3 linked regions of the Homo sapiens genome follow. The protein of the gene in region 2 purifies or fractionates together with the protein of the main gene of each other region. This does not show direct contact. Each region holds a gene or a part of one and is shown on either strand. Other genes may lie near its edges.

Region 1 (3,352 bases), on a different chromosome or scaffold from region 2:
GGGTGACACAGCAAGGATCGGTCTCAAAATAAAAAACAAAAATAAAAAGAGAGAGATTTGAGTGTGGACACAGAGCCAAACCATATTACTAAATATTGTTAAGCTATCCCAACGGGCATATTAATAGGGAAGCCAGCGGGTGGGGAACTAGGACAAAACTGTTCCTTGTTAAAAAAATGTCTGGGAATAGCTAAAATAAACCCAGTACAGCATCTCAATCCTGGCTACACATCAGAATGCTTTGAGATTAAATGCCTCACACTGTTTAGAGGCAGGCAGGATAGGCAACCACTGGAATTAAAAAACCTTTCATATGAAAGGATGAGGTTTTTGACACAGAGTCCTCCCTATACACGCATTCCCCTAACTTACTTGACCACAGAACTTGGAGAAAACACAGCTAAGAAAATGCTGCTCCAGATAAGAAAACTATGTTGAAAACATGGAAATAATGGATCTGTATATCATACAATGAAAACTACACAAAAGAAAACACACATGAAGATGTTGCTGACATGAAAACCTTTCTTTTTAATTTGGTTGATACACATTTGACAAAATATTTTAGAATAAAATAATCCATGAACAGGTACAAGGTATTTACAGTAACATAATTGAAAAACATAAAATCGATATATTTCTTTAACAGAAATGTCTATAAAATTTTCTACTGTGAATCTGGAAGACTTTCAGTTCCTACTTATCAACCTGGTCTTAAGCCCCAACAGGCGACATGTAAGGCCCAGGAGTAGGATATACAAACTCTAACACATTTGGCAATTAAGAATCATCTATTAGTGTGAGCTGGCAGGCGGTGGGTGGGGGGTGGGGATGGGGAGGGAAGAACCAGATCTTAGGGTAAGATACAGAATGGAAGACTCCACTGAAAACAACTATGGACAAGAAAGATCTAAAATCACACTTATCTTTCACTTGTCTCCTGTGGGAGAAGGCTGCAAACTATTTTAAAGACTTAGTCAATTTTTCCCATTAGCAGAAAATCAGCAACCCTGAGACTCCAACATTTCATGACATAAAAGCTAATAAACATCTAGAAGCTGATTAAGATTTATAAACTAATTTTACATCAGATAGAAAATAACTCTTATGATTTAAAAATACATGTAAGGAAACAAAATTTCTCAAATTTATTTTTCATGCCTAATTCTTAAACATTTCAACTAATATTTTCTATTGTCTGAAATTAGTTCCACACACAGATACACTTTAACTGAATGCTTTGAGTACAACTTGCTCTTGATTATTAAATGGAATGCCTACTTCCTTGTATTATTATTCATACATATTTAAAAGAAATGAGAAGTTTAATCCATCTGGACTATACAGAAATTTATTGACTTACAAGATAGTCACATAGACAGAGACCAGAAAAAAATGATCAAATGCTCATTCTTAGTAACACAACTGAGACAGTGAAACACGGTACACCATACATGTCATCTACTGATCCAACTATGCTATCTGATAAGCTATACTTACAAAGAATGGTTCCAACAAACACCTTTGTAGAACAAATATTCACACTGTGTTATCAAATTTGCTGCTCCTCCAGTGGCGGTTCAAGAGCTTCCATTAGCTTTTTATTTGCCTCTTCATTATGCCGGCTTTGACAATGAGTTAAATGTTTCTTAAAACCTCTTGGGAAATTTGATTCAAAATTACAACGTGGACATTTAAGTAAACTTTGCCCATGGGCTGCTACATGATTTTTAAGGAGAGATTCCAAAAGAAAAGCCTTTCCACAGATTGTGCATTTGTAAGGGCTATGAACATTATGCTTATTAACCAAATGATGCAAAACAGCACCTTTTTTCATAGCACGACAGCAACAAATTTTGCAATAATACTTTCCTTTTCCACGCTTCATGTATTTTGCAATCTCCTCTTCAGAGATAAAAGCTTCTTTTTCTTCAGTAAACTGTAGCACATTTCTAGACTGCTCTGGACTAGTCATGTCCATTTTGTTCTCTTTGCTAAAATCAATGGATTCCACATCAACCTGCTCTTGATCACTGCTTGATTCCTGGCCCTTAATATCCATCGCATCCAAATCTGTTTTTATGTACTCACTACTACTAAGCTCAGCGTCTGAGCTCTCTTGGTTGTCTTTCTTGAGCTTCTTTGAGGAAGGAAATAAAGTATCTTCTAAGAGTTTCTTAGGTGAAGCTAGAAGTTCTTCCTGAACCAAAATATCACATTTTTGATCATCTATGGCATCTATTTGTAGTTCATCACCAAGCTCAACAGCCTTCTGTGATTCTGAGAATAGAGCAGATTTGGGGAGTTCAGGGAAAAGGGCATGCTTCCGGGGCTCTGGAAAAAGGGCACGTTTGCGTGCTTCTGGAGAAGCAGGAGGGGCTGTTTTGGCAGGCTCGGGAAACAGGGCAGGTTTTCTAGGCTCAGTATCGATAGAGAGAACAGGCTTCCAGATATCTGAGGCTGCTTTGGGGGACTCAGATGGCCCAGAAGGACCTGGTTTTCGGGTCTCAGGGAAGACAGGTTTCTGAGGCTCAATAAAAAAGGAAGACTTCCAGAGATCAGGAGAACCACCACGGGAACTTTTCTGGGACTCAGGGAAATCAAGTGAAGCAGGAGAAGTTTTCCGCTGATCAGGAGAAAGCTTCCAAAGATCTGGTGACCCTGAGGGTTTTCTGAGCTCTGGAGATCCTGCTGGACTACGGATCTCTGGGGATAGTGGTGGGCCGGGTTTGCGAAGCTCTGGAGACACTGGGGGAACTGCCTTCCAATGTTCAGGAGACAACGTGGGAGCTGTCTTTCGGAGTTCTGGTGGGCCAGACTTCCATGACTCAGGAGATGCAGGGGGAGACTTCCAGGAGCTGGGTGAGACTGATGAAGATTTCCAGGATGCAGAAGACACAGATGGAGTTGGTTTCCAAGGTCCAGGAGATACAGAAGGAATTGGTTTCCAAGGTCCAGGAGACACAGATGGAGCAGGTTTAGCTGGCTTCCAAGGTCCTGATGATGCTGAAGGATTGGATTTCCAAGGCCTAGGGGACCCAGGTGGCCCTGGTTTCCAAGAGCCTGGTGACACAGCGGGGGCTGGTCTCCTAGGCTCTGGGGAGACAGCAGGGAACGGCTTCCAAGGTTCAGGAGACTCTGAAGGGGATGGCTTCCTTGGCTCAGGGGAGGTAGTCCGGGCTGACTTCCGAGATTCTGGAGATGCAGCTGGGGATGGTCCCCAAGGTTCTGGGGAAGCAGCTAGAACTGGTGACTCTGGAGATGAGGCTGAAGGTGGCCCCAATGTTTCCGGGAAATGAGACTGCTTCTGGGGTTTGGGATTACTAAGAGTAGCCTTTACTGACTCAGGAGA
Region 2 (7,831 bases):
CGGGCCAGGATCACAGCCCCAAGCCCAACCACGGCACATGCAGGCCCCGCCACCTTGAGCACCATGGGGCAGTCTGGGAGGGGCTTATATTGGCATGCCTGGAACCCAAAGATGGAGAGCAGGACTCCCACACACAACAAGACGGCGCCGAAGACAAAGAAGCAGAAGATGAGTTTGCTGACGTGTCTGTCCTGCTGGTCCCCATCTGGCTCAGCAGCAGCTGCAGGAGACATGTCCAGGAGAGGCCCCTTCCCGGAGGCAGGGTGGGATGTGTTTTCTTCCCTCCAAGATTTCAGCAGCTCTGCAAACACAACCAAACACCAAATTAACGTGGGCACAGGTGTTCCAGAACCACCCTGGTTTTTTGCTGATCATTTCTGAAATCACACCACAATGAGGCCTTGGGGGTAGAACTTTATACAACTGATAAGCTGTAGAACAATGAGTTGGTTTATGAGTCAGATAAACTAGCATTCAGAAACTCCTAAATATGTAATTTTACAAGATATTCAAAACAGGAAATTAAATTACTACACATCTAAGGGTATCTTTTTTAAAAACTGAAAGAACAAAAGTAGCTGGGTGTGGCATTTCCTTTTCTGAGTCTTACAAACTCATTTCCCTGGGGAAAAAAGCACTGGTGAATGAGGGAAGAACCACAGGGATTCTTTCTGATTGCAAATGCCCCACTTTTCATCATAGCTGCTCTCAGCATTTTCAAGTCAGTTCAGTAACTAACTTTCCATTTCCTGTTTTAGACTACAGCAGCTTTCCATTTCATGTTTTATTCTAAGGCTACATCTACAAAAGACCCAATTTCAGCAATTTCAATAGAATAAGAAGTCTGTTCAGGAACACAGTGGGTTTGGTGGACTTTTAAGTTGATTCTATCAAAATGTGGTTCTTGAGGCCAGGCGTGGTGGCTTGCGCCTGTAATCCCAGCACTTTGGGAGGCAGAGGCAGGCAGATTGCTTGAGCTCAGGAGTTCGAGACCAGCCTGGGTGACATAGCAAAACCCCATCTCTGCTAAAAATACAAACTTTAGCCAGGCATGGTGCCTGTGGTCCCAGCTACTTGGTAGGCTGAGGTGGGAGGATTGCTTGAGCCCAGGAGCTGGAGGTTGCAGTGAGCCAAGATCACGCCACTACTCTCCAGCCTGGGCAACAGAGTGAGACCCTGCCAAAAACAAAACAAAACAAAACAAAATGGTTCTTGGGTTCTCAACAAGCACAGACTGGTGACCCAGTTGCTTGGATCTGGGATGACCCTGGAAAGTGTTGCACAGCAGGTCAACAGGAGCTCAATTTTCAGAGTGGACAGGTACCCAAAGGCTGGTGTGGCCTCTCACTCACCCTCCTCCATGGTGTCACCTACTTCCACAAAGAGGTTGAGACTCAGTTAAAAAACAAGCAGCCAATAAAACTGCTAGTTATAAAGCACAAAATGGGTGGAAGGGGGGAACTTGGCTTTGAAAGAATAGTATAAGTGGAATCAAGTGAGAAAGCACCTTCCAGAAAATCACCCAAGCCCTGTACTTCAGGGGTATAATATATTAAATATGCCAAGTGGTTGTTAAAGAGTTGTCTAGCTTACACAGAGCTGACCTAATTATCTCGTTATCTTATTTTACTCCAATGAATGGGATATTTTACCAGGACCCCGTAAGTCAGGTCCTGCAATTGCAAAGACAATCCAAAATCGTGAAGACTATTTTCACCTGCCCAAGGAAAGAAAACTTTTAAAATATTTTGTGCCGCTCACATCCATGGTCCCATGAAGGAACTCAAGACTGAGGCCCTAAGCCCAAGATGATCTTGACAAACCAAAATCACACTGAGGGAAGGTCAGTTTAGGTAAAGAAAGCAAACAGGCAATCTTACACTGGGAAAAACTTTTCCAGGAAAAAGTATGATAGAATCAGAAGGAAGTTGGAGAAAAAAAGGAAATATAGGAGGGAAAAAAGCTTTCATTTCAAACTTGGAAAAACTTGATATACAGATGCAGTTAAGCTGAGACAAAGCATTGCACTAATTTTTTAATCTTCCCATTTTTTATTAAGTCAGTAACATCCTGCAGTGAATAAGAATTTCATATTGAGTATACAGTAGTCCTCATTTATCCTACAGGGAGTACATTCCAAAACTCTCAGTGGAATGAAACGATGGAGAGTCCTGAAACCTATATATATTGGTTTTTTGTTATTGTTGTTGTTTTAATTTTTTTCCTGAATCATGCAATCTCTTTTGCGGTTTCGGAGACAAGAAAGAGAAGGGTGATTCTCGGCTGCAAAGTCCTATCAGGAATTCATTTATTCCCAGTATAGTCAACTTTGCAGTGAGTCACAAGGCTTCAACTGTCTTAAGGCAAATTCCCAAACACCAGTAAATAGAAGCCCAAAACTGAATCTGTAGTTTCTTGTCCGTGGACTAGTGGACGGAGCACCTGGCTGAGTGTTCACCTCTGATCCATAATAGTGTGGAAATACTCTCTCTCTCTCCTTCTCCCACAGATGCACTCACAAACGGATACAAAGACACCCACATTCACTCGCAATGAAACCTTTTCCAAACACCACCCTACACTTAAACTCCCCAAAGCCAAACTCCCCTCTCCAACACTCCTATTGGTTTTCCAAAAGACATTTCCAAAATTCACAGCACCTCTCCACGTCCAAAGCTATGGTGCGTTTGGGGAACGAAACGAGAGGCAAATGCCTTCTGTGCGAAATCGGTTTGCGGCTTTTAGGGAGCCCGAGCGCAAGCAACAGCCGGAGGGGCTCGCAGGGACGCAGGTTGGGCTCGGATACCCAGCGCCTCCGCGCTGCCGCGGCTCCCCGCGCCCAGCCTGGCCGCACAGCTCAGCGCCCGACCCGCCGCCGCCGGCGCAGGCGCGCGGGCCGGGGCAGCTTACCTGAAGCTGGGTCCGGCGCCTGGCTGACCGCGCTGCTGTGGGCACTGGCTGGGCGCGGCGTCCGCCTCCGCACGCGGCCTCGGCTGCGCCGGCCGCCCTGCACCCTACCCACCGCGCGTCCTGGTGCGGAGGGCGGACCCGGCAGTATTTAGAGAAGGAGGCGGTGCTGCGCGGGCGCGGCGGCCCGGGGAGGGCAGGGCAGGGCAGTGCAGGAGCGACCGGTGGGAGCTGGCCGCCACTGGGGGCCCGGGGCGCGCCCGCGAGGGAATGGAGAGCCAGGGGCGGCTTCGGAACCCAGGGCTGGCGGGTTTGGCAGCCTCCGCGCTCGTGGCCGTGCGCGCGAGGAATCTGGGAGAAATGGGCACCTTCCACGGCTGCCTGGCCCGCACACCTGGCGGGGCCGGCGAGTTGAGATGCCCCCGCCGGCTGGCGGAACTGTGCGCCCCGCCCGCCGAGGCCCGCTCCCCCTCGAGGCCTGAGGCCCAGTTCTATAGGGGCGCGAGAGAGCGGCGGCGTGGGGGGCGCGGAGGAAGCGCCGGCCCCCGCCTCCACCGCCTCCTTCGTGGTTGCGGCCCAGGCCGAACAGGGTACCGTGCCCCGGCCGCCTTGGCCTTGGCCACCGCGAGGTCCGGGGCGACTACACCCAGCAGCCCTGTGGCCCTCCTACTGCTCTGGAGACCTGGAGTGGGGTTACAGAGGGAAGCGACTCGCTGCGAGCTCCCCATCGAATATGGAGCCACCAGGTCACGGGACGACGTGCGCTCTACAGAATGTGAGACAAGGGCCCTCCACACCCAGCCATTCAGGCCTGAGGTCCTGGCTCCGAGACTGAGGCCGAGACGCGGCAAGCCCCGCGCCGGACCAGCTCTGCCCCTCCCGCACCCACGTGTCTGCGCACAGCCCTCCTTTGCGATAGAACCCCCTTCCTGGTTCTCCACCACTAATGATCTGCCGGAATTAAACTGGTAACTTTCCCTGCCCTTGAACCGGGAGTTTCGGGATGAGTTTGCCAATCCCTGTGCTATTTGTAACCAGCCCCGTGACACGTGATACGGATCCAACTGTGCTAGTTTCCACACCAGGGGTCAGGGCACGGTGGAAGGTGAGTCAAGGGTTCTCTGCCCAAGCGCAGAGGTGCCCTGAGCCACGGGGACTTCCCAGCCCTGCCTTCTCTTCTCAGCTTCCTGTCTGCCTTGCCTGAAACCCTATCTAGAGTTAAGGCCAATGGATGAAACTTTTCAATGTGCAAGCAAGCACTTTACCTACCTGATACAACAAGAGATTCCTGGTCATGCTCACTGAAGGTAAAGTATGAAGCAGGCTTAGCTAATCATCAGAGGTGAGAAGAGACTTAAAGAACCAGTCAGAGAGGTAAAGAGGGGAGGGGGTTACCTGGGCTTTAGGGTTCACCAGGGAGGCAGAACGGACAAGTTCTTGCCATTGGAATTTGGTGGGGCACTTGCCTGGGTGGCCAAAGGTGGACTTTTTCATAGCCAGGGTGCCCGACCTCTGTAAATCCCCGCCATAACTAACAGCCCTGATTACTGTCGAAATGAACAATGCCAACACTCACGACCCCTTGCTTTGTGGTTCTTTGCTACATCTCTCCAGCAGTTCAGAAAAGGTTGGAGGCAGCAGGGGACAGGAGACTGAGAAAAACAGTCATTTGTCAGTTGAGGAAACTGAGGTCCAGGCTGACAGAGGTAAAGTAACCTCTGCAGCTGGTTGACATGCAGAGAAGGCCTGAGCCAGATGCAGATGCGCTGACCATTCAGTGTTTCTCCCGCAGCACACCTGTCACTCAGAGAACACACCATGCTGTGAACCCAGAAAACGCCCTCATGGCCTTGTGATGCCAAGCACGTTTAGATTATTATAACAATACAGGCACTGTGTCCCAAGGACATTGCAGTAATCTATGTTTGGGGTGGAGATATCCTTCCTGGTCCAAGTGTCAAGGTATACCACCTTCTGGAAGGGCACCAAAGCATGTCCAGCGAATGGGCAGATACCCAAGAGTGGATTGTACAACAGCAGGCACTGGCTTTCTAAGAACTCAGGCCCTCATTATAGGATTTGTCCCCTCTGACACAGGCCTGTGAACAACTCTTCATTGTGCAAAAGGGTTTCCTTGTCCTTTCCCTACTCATTCTTCCCTTCCCCCTTATTTGAAACTGAATCTCTGGCCATGTCATGTGCAGGCCTGCAAGGGGCCTGTTGATACAGCTGCCCCTCTGGTGCCACATGACTGCAGGCTCACCACCCATGACAGACTTGAATATCCTGGCACCAAGGACAATCAGATTAGCCTCCACTTGGTATATCTGCTGTTCTCACTGTTTGTGTCTATGAGAGCCTGTTTGACTAAATTAAACTCCTTGGAAATTGATCATCGATTATGTATGAAAGACATACCCACCAGCCTTTGAGGTACTTATCTTTGTAGCCCACCTAGCCTTAGGAGAGAAGCTGCGTGGCCTGGTCACTATCTAGTGGTCTTCCCTGGCCTGTGTGGTAGTGAAAAAGATAAAAGCCAGACCGAATCCTTAGAAAAACAGCATCAGAACAAGATTAAAAACCTCGAATTCAGTGACTGTAGAAGCATAAAGCAGAGGCATGTGTTCATGTATTTAGCCAGCACAGATTTACCAACTACCAATAAAACACGGAACTTGTATTTTATTGAGGAGAAAGGCAATAAAATATGTAAGTTATACAGAGAATTAGAAAGTGATTGAGTGCCAGGGAGAACAATAAATCACAGATGGGGACTGGGGAGCACCCCATTTTAAATAGGGGAGTTAAGGAAGGCATCTCTGAGAAGGTGAGATTGCAGCAAAAACTTGAAGGGAATGAGGAAGCAAGTGTATCAATGATCTATTATTGCATAACAACTTACCCCAAAACTTTGAAGTTTGAAACAGCAAAAATGTATTCTCAGGGTTTCTGATCAGGGTCAGAAACTGCAAGTGGCTTAGCTGGGTACTTCTGGCTGAGCCTCTCAGAGGCTGCAGTCTAGCAGTTGGCCAGGGCTGTGGTCATCTGAAGGCTGGACTGGGGCTGGAGGATCTGCTGCCAAGGTGGCACATTCACAGGGCTATTGGCAGGAGGCCTCAGTTCCTCACTATGTGGATTTCTCCACCCAGCCTCCCCTCACGTGAGTGATCCAAGGGAGAGCAAACAAAGGGGAAGCTGTGGTGCCTTTTCTGACGAGGCTCTGCACTTCCATACCATCACTTCTCTTTATTCTGGTCCTTAGAATTGAGTCACAAAGTCAAGGGGAATGGGATTAGGTGCCACCTCTTGTAGGGAAGAGTAAGAATTTGTAAGCATAGTTCGTGATTTTTTGTGGGAAGTAGGGAAGAGTGCTTCAGGCAGAAGTAACCACAGGTGCAAAGGCCCTGAGGTAGGAACACACATATTAGCATATTCAAAGGAGAGCAAGAGGCCAGGGTGGCTGCAGTTGGTGAGCAAGGGGGAGAGTAGGAGAGGAGGTCAGAGAGGAAAGGCATGTGCAGGGCCAAGGGCACCAGGTTGTGCAGGGCCTTTAAGTAGGTGGGAAGCCTTTGAATGGTTTTTGAGCTGATGTGATGAGCTTTGACAGTGATGTGATCTGATTTCTTTTAAAAAAGAAATTGGTGGCTGTTGCAGTAAGAATAGCCCAAGGAGGAGCCAGGATGGATGGGAAGAGGCCAGTTAGGAGGCTGTGGTAACAACCCAGGAGTTATGTCTGTAGCTTGTGTATGAAGGTGATGAAAGGGATGAGACTTTGGATATATCTTGAAGATAGAGTCAATGGGATTTTCCATGAACCACATGTGGGTTTTGATTCCAAGGTTTTGGATCTGAGCAAGTGGAAGAATGGTTCTGGCATGAGCAAGATGGGGAATCCTAAGAGTGGGACAAGTTTGAGAGGAGGAGCTTCAGAGTCCATTTGGGGACATGTTAATTTTGTCCATTAGACATCCGAGTAGAGAAGCTGAGTAGGCAATTGAATATGGAGGCTTGGAGTTCAGGAATTCGGAAGGAATACTTTCCTGTGGTCTGTGAGTGACATTACAAAATTGAGGAGGCTGGGCTCCCTCTCTGGAAGAGTAACAATTAGTCCTTTGGAGGGTTCTAAACACACAAAGCAAGGGAGGGGCTGGTGCCAACCAAGTGCAGTTTTCAGATGTTTCTGGGGTGCAGAGCACAGCTAGTGCGGCTGGGAGGCATGAGTTTCACCCAGAGCAGGGGGCTTCTGCTGCTCTGTTCCCAAAACAGTGCCCTAAGGAACACATATCTTTCACTTCAACAAGACAGGCCACGTATTTCTTCCCAGGGCACTGCCAACCCTGAGAAGAAACTCAGGGCAAGTGGATTGACCTGCAGAATTCAGTGGCACCATTTTTCAGAATTCATAAGATGGCAGAAAGACAATCAGCTAATCAAGTCTGCCAACTTCTAGGTCTCTTTTCTCTTTTGGTCTCTTTCTAATTCTGCCCCAAATTAATCTTAGCACCCAGAAGCACACATTTCCCTGCTTCCAATTTCTGATGTTTTCTGAGCCCCAGCTGGGCTTGGTTTATAGGAATTTATTCTTGAGCGCTCAGTCTTGGGTCCATGTTTCAACACATATTTCCAGGACTCCCAATGACTCCTCTGAACCAACCTGGGCCCCATCCAGCTGTATAACCCTGAAAAGGGTGTACCAAAGTCCCTGGGATATTTTCCTCCTCCCTAACCCCCAGGTCGGACTTAGACCCAGGGGCTTCAGAGACATATCAGGAGTGCAAGTAGAGGCTGACTAATTTGGAAAGCTTGAATTAAGGGTTTAGACTGGCTCCCTTAGCTGATCCTAGTGCAAAGGCTAATCTTTTGCAGAGTCATTTTATGGCGTGAGATGGTGCTGTTGATTTTGCACAGTTAATAACAGCTCAGC
Region 3 (7,032 bases), on a different chromosome or scaffold from region 2:
CTGCGTGCTTTTCTGGCTCAGCGTCTTATGGAGAAAAACCCTCGTGTGGGTCCCACTGGTTTCCCAGGGACACTGGAGAAAGTCCCAGACGAGCCTGCCCCACTGACGGTGTCTCTTCCTAATGAGGGGTCCCGAGGTCCTGTGCCCTCAGAGCCTGGGCTTGCCTCCTGACCCTCCAGCTGCAACCCCATCCACGTCCGCCCCATCCTCTCCCAAGGCGGGACAGGCGGGGCAGGTGCGGGGAGGGGTGGTGGCGTCTATGGAGGAAAAGCCTACCCCCTTGGCGTGTGGGGGTGGCCTGGGGCTGCTCCTGAGTGTCCGCCTCCGTCCCGCCCCCTGCCACCCTTCTTCACTGGTGAGCTCCATTGCCCCCGCTCCCCGGGGCACATGGGCTTCTCCCCGCTCTTTCCCAGGAGCAAGGCCTTGCTCCTGTCTGAGCCTGCAGCTCTACTGCAAGGAGATGTGGCCTGGCCCTGCTCCTCTTCGTGGAAGGACCCCGCCCAGCCGGTGTCCTGGGGCTGCCACCATCCCTTCCCTCATGCATGAATCACCTGAGCCCAGCTCAGGGTTGGTGGCGCCCAAGGGAGTGGACGCAGGTGGAGGAGAGGCCCTCACCTGTCTTCACCGCATGGCGTGTGGAAGGCGGGGCCGGCATGTTCTGAGGGCGGGGGCTGAGGCGTGCACCTGTGTGTGGAGGTGACGGGTGTCCTCCTCGCTCAGGTTGTTTAAGTTGAAGGAGCGCTACCGCAACGTGCTGGACACCATGTTCGAGCTGCTGCCCCGGATGGCCAGGTACTGCCAGCCCCCACCCTGGCCTGCAGGTCCAGGTGCCGTGTGGCAGTGCCCCGTGGGGGCGGGAGCCGAGTGGCAGTCGGGGGAAAGGAGTTCCACAAAGGACTGCAATCGAGGGCCTGACGGGGCTCCAAGGAGCCTGGAATCTTGACCACCACAGGTCTCCTGGGCACCATTTTTCTCCACTGACCTGTCTGACATATTTAGTAGGGAGGGCAGGGAGCTGTCAACTCGCTTACCACCTGTGTCTACATTCACAGGTAAGGGGTCACCTGTGAGTCTACCTTCACAGGTAAGGGGTGAATCTCTGGGAAAGGGGCATTTGTTCATAGCGTCCTGACTTGAGCTGTTTTTCACCCCAGAGCTGCCCCACGAGGCCCCTTCCCCGCAGGCACTTTCCAGTTGGTGAACCGACCAGGGGCATGGCCCTGCAGTCAGCCCCACGGGTCCGAGGAGGCCGGGGCTGCAGAGGAGCCGTTCCCTCCTGCCGGCCCCGCGTCACCCTGCCCCTGTCGCCCCACAGCCTGGGCCTCACCCTGCTCATCTTTTACTACTCCTTCGCCATCGTGGGCATGGAGTTCTTCTGCGGGATCGTCTTCCCCAACTGCTGCAAGTGAGTAGGCCCCACCCAGCCCCAGGCAGCCTGCATTTCCCGGGCAGAGGGCTGGCCAGGGCCAGGATTGGTGTCCTTGTGGCCTTGGGGTCCTCGGGGATGTTCCTGTCTAAGCAACCACCTTGCTTTGCTTTCAGGGCTTAGTTGAGTGCAGTGAGCTAAATGAGGGGCCTGGACTCGGGGTCCCTGTTTCTCCATCCCCCAGGCAGGGTTGGGAGCTGTCAGCTCACCCTCTGCCGAGGGCTGGAGGCCACCCCCACAGTAGCCTGGGTCCCAAGGTCAAGTCCCATGGCTTCCTCCCACTTCTCTCCTGGAGTGGCTGGGGACCTGGGCCAAGACCAGTCTTCTAGGGACAGCATCGTAGGATAAGACAGACGGACACGTGCAGGAAGGTCATGGTGCTCAGGGATGGGGAGCAGAGAGTGAAATCTCCCATGAGCACTCCCTTTCTCCTGAGCCGCCACAGTGAAATCACTGCACACTGCCATTCATTCATCCTCAATTCAGAGAGTCCTCTTACATTTGGTCTTTACAGCCTCAAGCACCGATGAAGAAACAGTTTTACAAAGACACTGGTAGCTTTGAGACCCAGTTTGAGTGTCAAGCTTGGTCTGGAACCAGAAGCCTATAGCAGTGGGTCCCAGACTTTAGAGCCCATTGCAGTCACCAGGGAGCTTAGTGCAAGCTCCAGACCTCACTCTTGTGTCTGATGCATGCGTGTGGGAGGAGGCTCCCTGGTGGCCCAAGCACTAGACTTTTATAAACATTAGCATGGATATTAACAGAACAGCCATAAAAGATTGGAAGGAAAGTGGCAAATAAGAGCTCCTCAAAACAGGGCCAACCTTTTCAAATACTTGCTCAGGCCAAGTATTGGGGAAGCCCCAGTAGGGAATTCCTTCCCTGGGACTGTGGCCTAGTGTCCAGCCTCAAGAGCAGATCCTAGATGGGGCAGGTGCAGAGGAGGCCCTTGCCTCTCCTCCCTCCCCTGCAAGCAACGGTGAGAGAGAAGGCCCTGCCTGCAGCAGACAACTTCCAGGTGACAGAGGTGGGTCAGGCTGGCCAGGGGATCCCGCCAAGCCCAGCAGGCAGGAATAGCCAAGGGCATTCCTTCAGCAGGGACCCAGGCATGAGGTGGAGAGGGTTAGGCAGGAAACCAGGCTGCGGGCAGAACAGAAGGATCCTTGGCCAGAACTCGGTTTGTTTCAGACTTCTGTCCTCTCTGGAGGTGACTGATCGCCTTGTGACCCTCCCTCCTTTCTCCCTTGTGCTCCGGCCAGCACGAGTACAGTGGCAGATGCCTACCGCTGGCGCAACCACACCGTGGGCAACAGGACCGTGGTGGAGGAAGGCTACTATTATCTCAATAATTTTGACAACATCCTCAACAGCTTTGGTGAGTGGGAAAAATCACAGGGGGCACATTCCCTGGGGACCCCACCCTTGTCACCCTTGTCACCACGGGTCCCAGAGGTGGTGTAGCAAGTGTCTGGGCCACACTTTCTGGAAGCCTCCCTGGCCCAGGTGGAGGACTTGGTCTGCCCAGCTTTGGCAGTACAGTCCAGGCTGGATCCTGGAGCTCACTCAGTTGCCTGATTCCACTCTTTCCTGATATTTTCTCAGTACCGGGGAGGACAAGAGTTGCAAGCCTTAGCTGGGCGGGGTCCCCTCATCACAGTGCCACTTGCAGAATGGGACCCAGCCACACCACTGCTGCTGCAGCTGCACTGCCCCCTGGCTCAGACTGCACACAGCCCTCTGCCCACTCCCATGAAGAGGCGAACACAGCCAAACCGCCTCTCCAGAAAAAGGGTGTGCCCCCATGACACCCCAGATCTGCACCCAGTAAGATCCAGATAGTCTGATGTGGCACAGGCTGCTGAGGCAGAGGGTGTGTTCTCTTGGGGGCAGGCCATGATGTCCTGTGGAGCCAGCGCCCTAGGAGTGCCTTGCCTGGTCTTTCCTGGAGCTCACAACCCAAGCGGTCATATGGTGACCCTCTCATCTTAGCACATGGCACCCAGGATAGGTGGCAAGAGGCCACTTGAAATTGACTTTGAAGTGGGGTCTCATCAGGATGCTTCTTTCTCTCTTCCCTCGGCAGTGACCCTGTTTGAGCTCACAGTTGTCAACAACTGGTACATCATCATGGTAAGAGCTCGGGCAGCTCTGGGGGTATCTTCCCGCCAGCCCTGGGGTCGGCCCTGGGTCTCCCCCAACCCAGAGTATATAATTCTTCCCGTAGCTTGCAGGGCTGGGGGTCTTGAGTCATGCTGTGTTGGTGTTCAGTGGGGAGGCCACAGGATGGCTGGGCCCCAGGAGCCACCCCTCCCAGTGTTGGCTGGACTCGGCTGTTACTCCCATCTCCCTGCATGTCCCCAGCAGCCAGGAGATGCCACTTAGACTCTGGGTCTCTGTCCTGTCTCGCCCACTGTAGAGATGACTTTTCCCTCTAGTGACAAAGTGGCGAGCATTGCTGATCTCTTTATTCCATTCCTTAAACTTTCCCGACTCCCAGCCCTACTGGGATAAAGGCTGCCCTGGTTCTGGATCCAGTCGTCCAGGGGAGTGGCCAGGGCTCCTTCAGCAGTCAGGAATTAGTGTTAGGCCCAGAGGGGCAAGCTTCCTCTCCTCCATCTCTCACAACCAGCCACAAATCACGGTGGGGTCTGCGAAGAGCCGGGGCCATGGAGCAGCCTGTGTAGACGGGGACCTGCCCTGCATGGGCACCCCCTCACTGGCTGCTTCCCTTGGTCTCCAGGAAGGCGTCACCTCTCAGACCTCCCACTGGAGCCGCCTCTACTTCATGACCTTTTACATTGTGACCATGGTAGGTCCCGGACCACAGAACGCTCTTTGTCCTTCGTCTTCCACATCACCAGCTGCCCCTGCTCTTCAGCCTGCAGCGTCAGGGAGTGGGGCTGGGTCCCATCTGGCCGGACTCTGTTGGGCGTGGGCTGCGCAGCCACGGACACCTACCCACCCTCCTCCCCTGCCTCTGCCCCTCCCTCCCTATCCCTGGCCAGGTGGTGATGACGATCATTGTCGCCTTTATCCTCGAGGCCTTCGTCTTCCGAATGAACTACAGCCGCAAGAACCAGGACTCGGAAGGTCTGTGCAGGGATGATGCCTTGGGCATTTGATATCTGCCGCCTACCCAGCTCTGTCTGTCTGTCTGGGTGGCTGTCCAGCCAGCCATCAGGCTGTCATTTTTCTGCTGTCTGGCTGTCCAGCTTATCTATCTGGCTTGTCTTTCTAGATCTTGTATTTGCATTGATTTTCAAATATTTAATGTCAGAAAACGTAATCTAACTTTAAAATAAGACAGAGCATGTCATAGTTGGAGAAAAATCAAGAAGTAGAGAAAGGCTTATGTGGCAGCAGCAGCCCCTGCCCTGCCTTTCCCTCCCGTCCTCCAGAGGCTTCTCCTTCTTGGCTATTTCTTCTGTTAGTCATCTCCACGTTTCTCAATAATAGGTTCACACTACGGTTCTTGATTTAAATGGTGTAAATATTGCTTATGGCACAGGCGAATCGTATTCCTGCTGCAACTGGATGGTGCTGGCTTTAGTGACTGCCTCACTCTTCCCAGATTGCACAGCTTTCTGTGTGCTGACCCTCCCTTCTTCCCAAATTCTCCATCAAAACTGTCTGCACTTGATCTCTTGAGCCCAGGAGGTCAAGACTGCAGTGAGCCATGATCACACCACTGCACTCCAGCCTGGGCAGCGGAGTGAGACCCTGTCTCTTAAAAGAAACAGAAAACCCTGTGCCCACACTTGTTACCTCTCATCCTCAGATCTCTGTGCTATCAGACCATCTGACCATTTTCTCTGTGCTTAGAGGCCCCTTCCTGAAACCCTCTGGCCCTGTAACAGCTGCCAGCTAGACCTGCGCTCCTGACATCACAGCAGAGGGAGGGGAAGGGAAAGGAGGGCCAACGAGGAGAGCAGGACACCAATGCAGTGTCGGTTTAGAGAGAGAACCTTAAGACCCCCTGCGGAAGGGGGCAAGGAGGTACGAGACCCAGCCAGGTTGGCAGCTGCAGCCCCGGGCCCTTCCCACACCTGCCTTCCATCCCTGCAGTTGATGGTGGCATCACCCTTGAGAAGGAAATCTCCAAAGAAGAGCTGGTTGCCGTCCTGGAGCTCTACCGGGAGGCACGGGGGGCCTCCTCGGATGTCACCAGGCTGCTGGAGACCCTCTCCCAGATGGAGAGATACCAGGTGAGGAGCCCAGGCCCTGGTCCGAAGGAGGGAGGCAGGTTTCAGTGTGGGTGGCATAATCCCTTCCCTCAGATATTGGTAACATTTTGAGTGACACAGTTGCAAAAGCCAGAGAAGTGGGAGACGCCAACTGTGGCACCAGGGGTGGGACCTGAATATCTGCAGCCGAGCCCTGCAGCCTCTGCTCTTCCTTAGCAACATTCCATGGTGTTTCTGGGACGGCGATCAAGGACCAAGAGCGACCTGAGCCTGAAGATGTACCAGGAGGAGATCCAGGTAGGAGCCTGGCCGACCACGCTGCGAATCCTCCCCCAAGCTATGTCCTGGGAGGGGCAGGGAGCTGCTCTCTGGCCCTCTGAGTAGAGGGAGAAGGCTGGTAGAGAGATGCAGACCGTCCATCGGGACCACTGCTGGGGTTGTGTGGGACCTGAGCGGGGCTCACTTAGCCTTGAACCCTTGACTCGTGCCCAGCAGAGGCAGCTCTCCAGCCTGCCTGCCGCCATATGTCCCTGCCCCTTATGAATTCTCCAGAACCTCCTCTCCATCTCTTACTCTGAGTCAGCTGCAAACTCAAACATGTGTACTAAGAAACACAGTGAGCAAAGAGGAAAGAGCGGCGACCGTGGTGAACTGGCAAGGATGTCCCTGTCCAAAGGAGACAGTCTCCTCCCAGCTCCAGGATGTGCCTGTCCAAAGGGGACACAGCCTCCTCCCAGCCCCAGCGAGTGCTGCCCAATAGGAAGAAGGCCCTACTGCGGTCGGGCTGCTTGGTGTTTTGTTTTGAGATGGAGTCTCGCTCTGTCTCCCAGGCTGGAGTGCAGCAGCACGATCTAGGCTCACTGCAACCTCCGCCTCCTGGGTTCAAGCGATTCTCCTGCCTCAGCCTCCCGAGTAGCTGGGATTACAGGCACACGCCACCACACCTGGCTAATTTTTGTATATTTAGTGGAGACGGGGTTTCACCATGTTGGCCAGGCTGGGAGTGCTTGGGATTTTTCATAATTGGGTGTTTTTTGTTTTGTTTTGTTTTAGAGATGGTATCGCTCTGTCACCTGGGCTGGAGTCCAGTGGCGTGATCATAGCTCACTGTAGCCTCCAACCCCTGGGCTCAAGTGATCCTCCCCACTCAGCCTACCCAAGCAGCTGGAACTACAGGTGTGCACTGTGACACCCTAATTACCTTATTTTTGTAGCAGTGAGGTCTTGCTGGGGTCTCAAACTCCTGGTCTCAAGCAATTCTTCCACCTTGGCTTCTAATTTAAGAAAAGGCAGGCCAGGCATGGTGGCTCATGCCTGTAATCCCAGCACTTTGGGAGGCCAAGGCAGGCGGATCACTTGATGCCAGGAGCTCGAGACCAGCCTGGCCAACATGGTGAAACCCTGTCTCTACTAAAATTACAA

Evidence for each region.
Region 1: the proteins of TMEM171 (region 2) and CHAMP1 purify together in Homo sapiens (affinity purification with mass spectrometry; 3 studies listed by BioGRID and IntAct, with this or other methods). This does not show direct contact.
Region 3: the proteins of TMEM171 (region 2) and TPCN1 purify together in Homo sapiens (affinity purification with mass spectrometry; 4 studies listed by BioGRID and IntAct, with this or other methods). This does not show direct contact.

Annotation. Positions count from the first base shown.
Region 1 is NC_000013.11:114,324,482-114,327,833, reverse strand, and holds the end of CHAMP1 (chromosome alignment-maintaining phosphoprotein 1), read right to left. Parts: coding exon 1,553-3,352; 3' UTR 512-1,552; downstream 1-511. UniProt on the Homo sapiens protein: Required for proper alignment of chromosomes at metaphase and their accurate segregation during mitosis. Involved in the maintenance of spindle microtubules attachment to the kinetochore during sister chromatid biorientation.
Region 2 is NC_000005.10:73,115,776-73,123,606, reverse strand, and holds the start of TMEM171 (transmembrane protein 171), read right to left. Parts: upstream 3,033-7,831; 5' UTR 2,911-3,032; intron 302-2,910; 5' UTR 234-301; coding exon 1-233. Other genes in the region: uncharacterized protein LOC124901001, read left to right, coding at 3,178-3,879.
Region 3 is NC_000012.12:113,287,443-113,294,474, forward strand, and holds part of TPCN1 (two pore channel protein 1), read left to right. Parts: intron 1-720; coding exon 721-792; exon of another isoform or gene 793-1,052; coding exon of another isoform or gene 1,053-1,056; exon of another isoform or gene 1,057-1,084; intron 1,085-1,154; exon of another isoform or gene 1,155-1,217; intron 1,218-1,315; coding exon 1,316-1,405; intron 1,406-2,685; coding exon 2,686-2,801; intron 2,802-3,509; coding exon 3,510-3,556; intron 3,557-4,080; exon of another isoform or gene 4,081-4,166; coding exon 4,167-4,235; intron 4,236-4,431; coding exon 4,432-4,516; intron 4,517-5,491; coding exon 5,492-5,631; intron 5,632-5,826; coding exon 5,827-5,907; intron 5,908-7,032. UniProt on the Homo sapiens protein: Intracellular channel initially characterized as a non-selective Ca(2+)-permeable channel activated by NAADP (nicotinic acid adenine dinucleotide phosphate), it is also a voltage-gated highly-selective Na(+) channel activated directly by PI(3,5)P2 (phosphatidylinositol 3,5-bisphosphate) that senses pH changes and confers electrical excitability to organelles.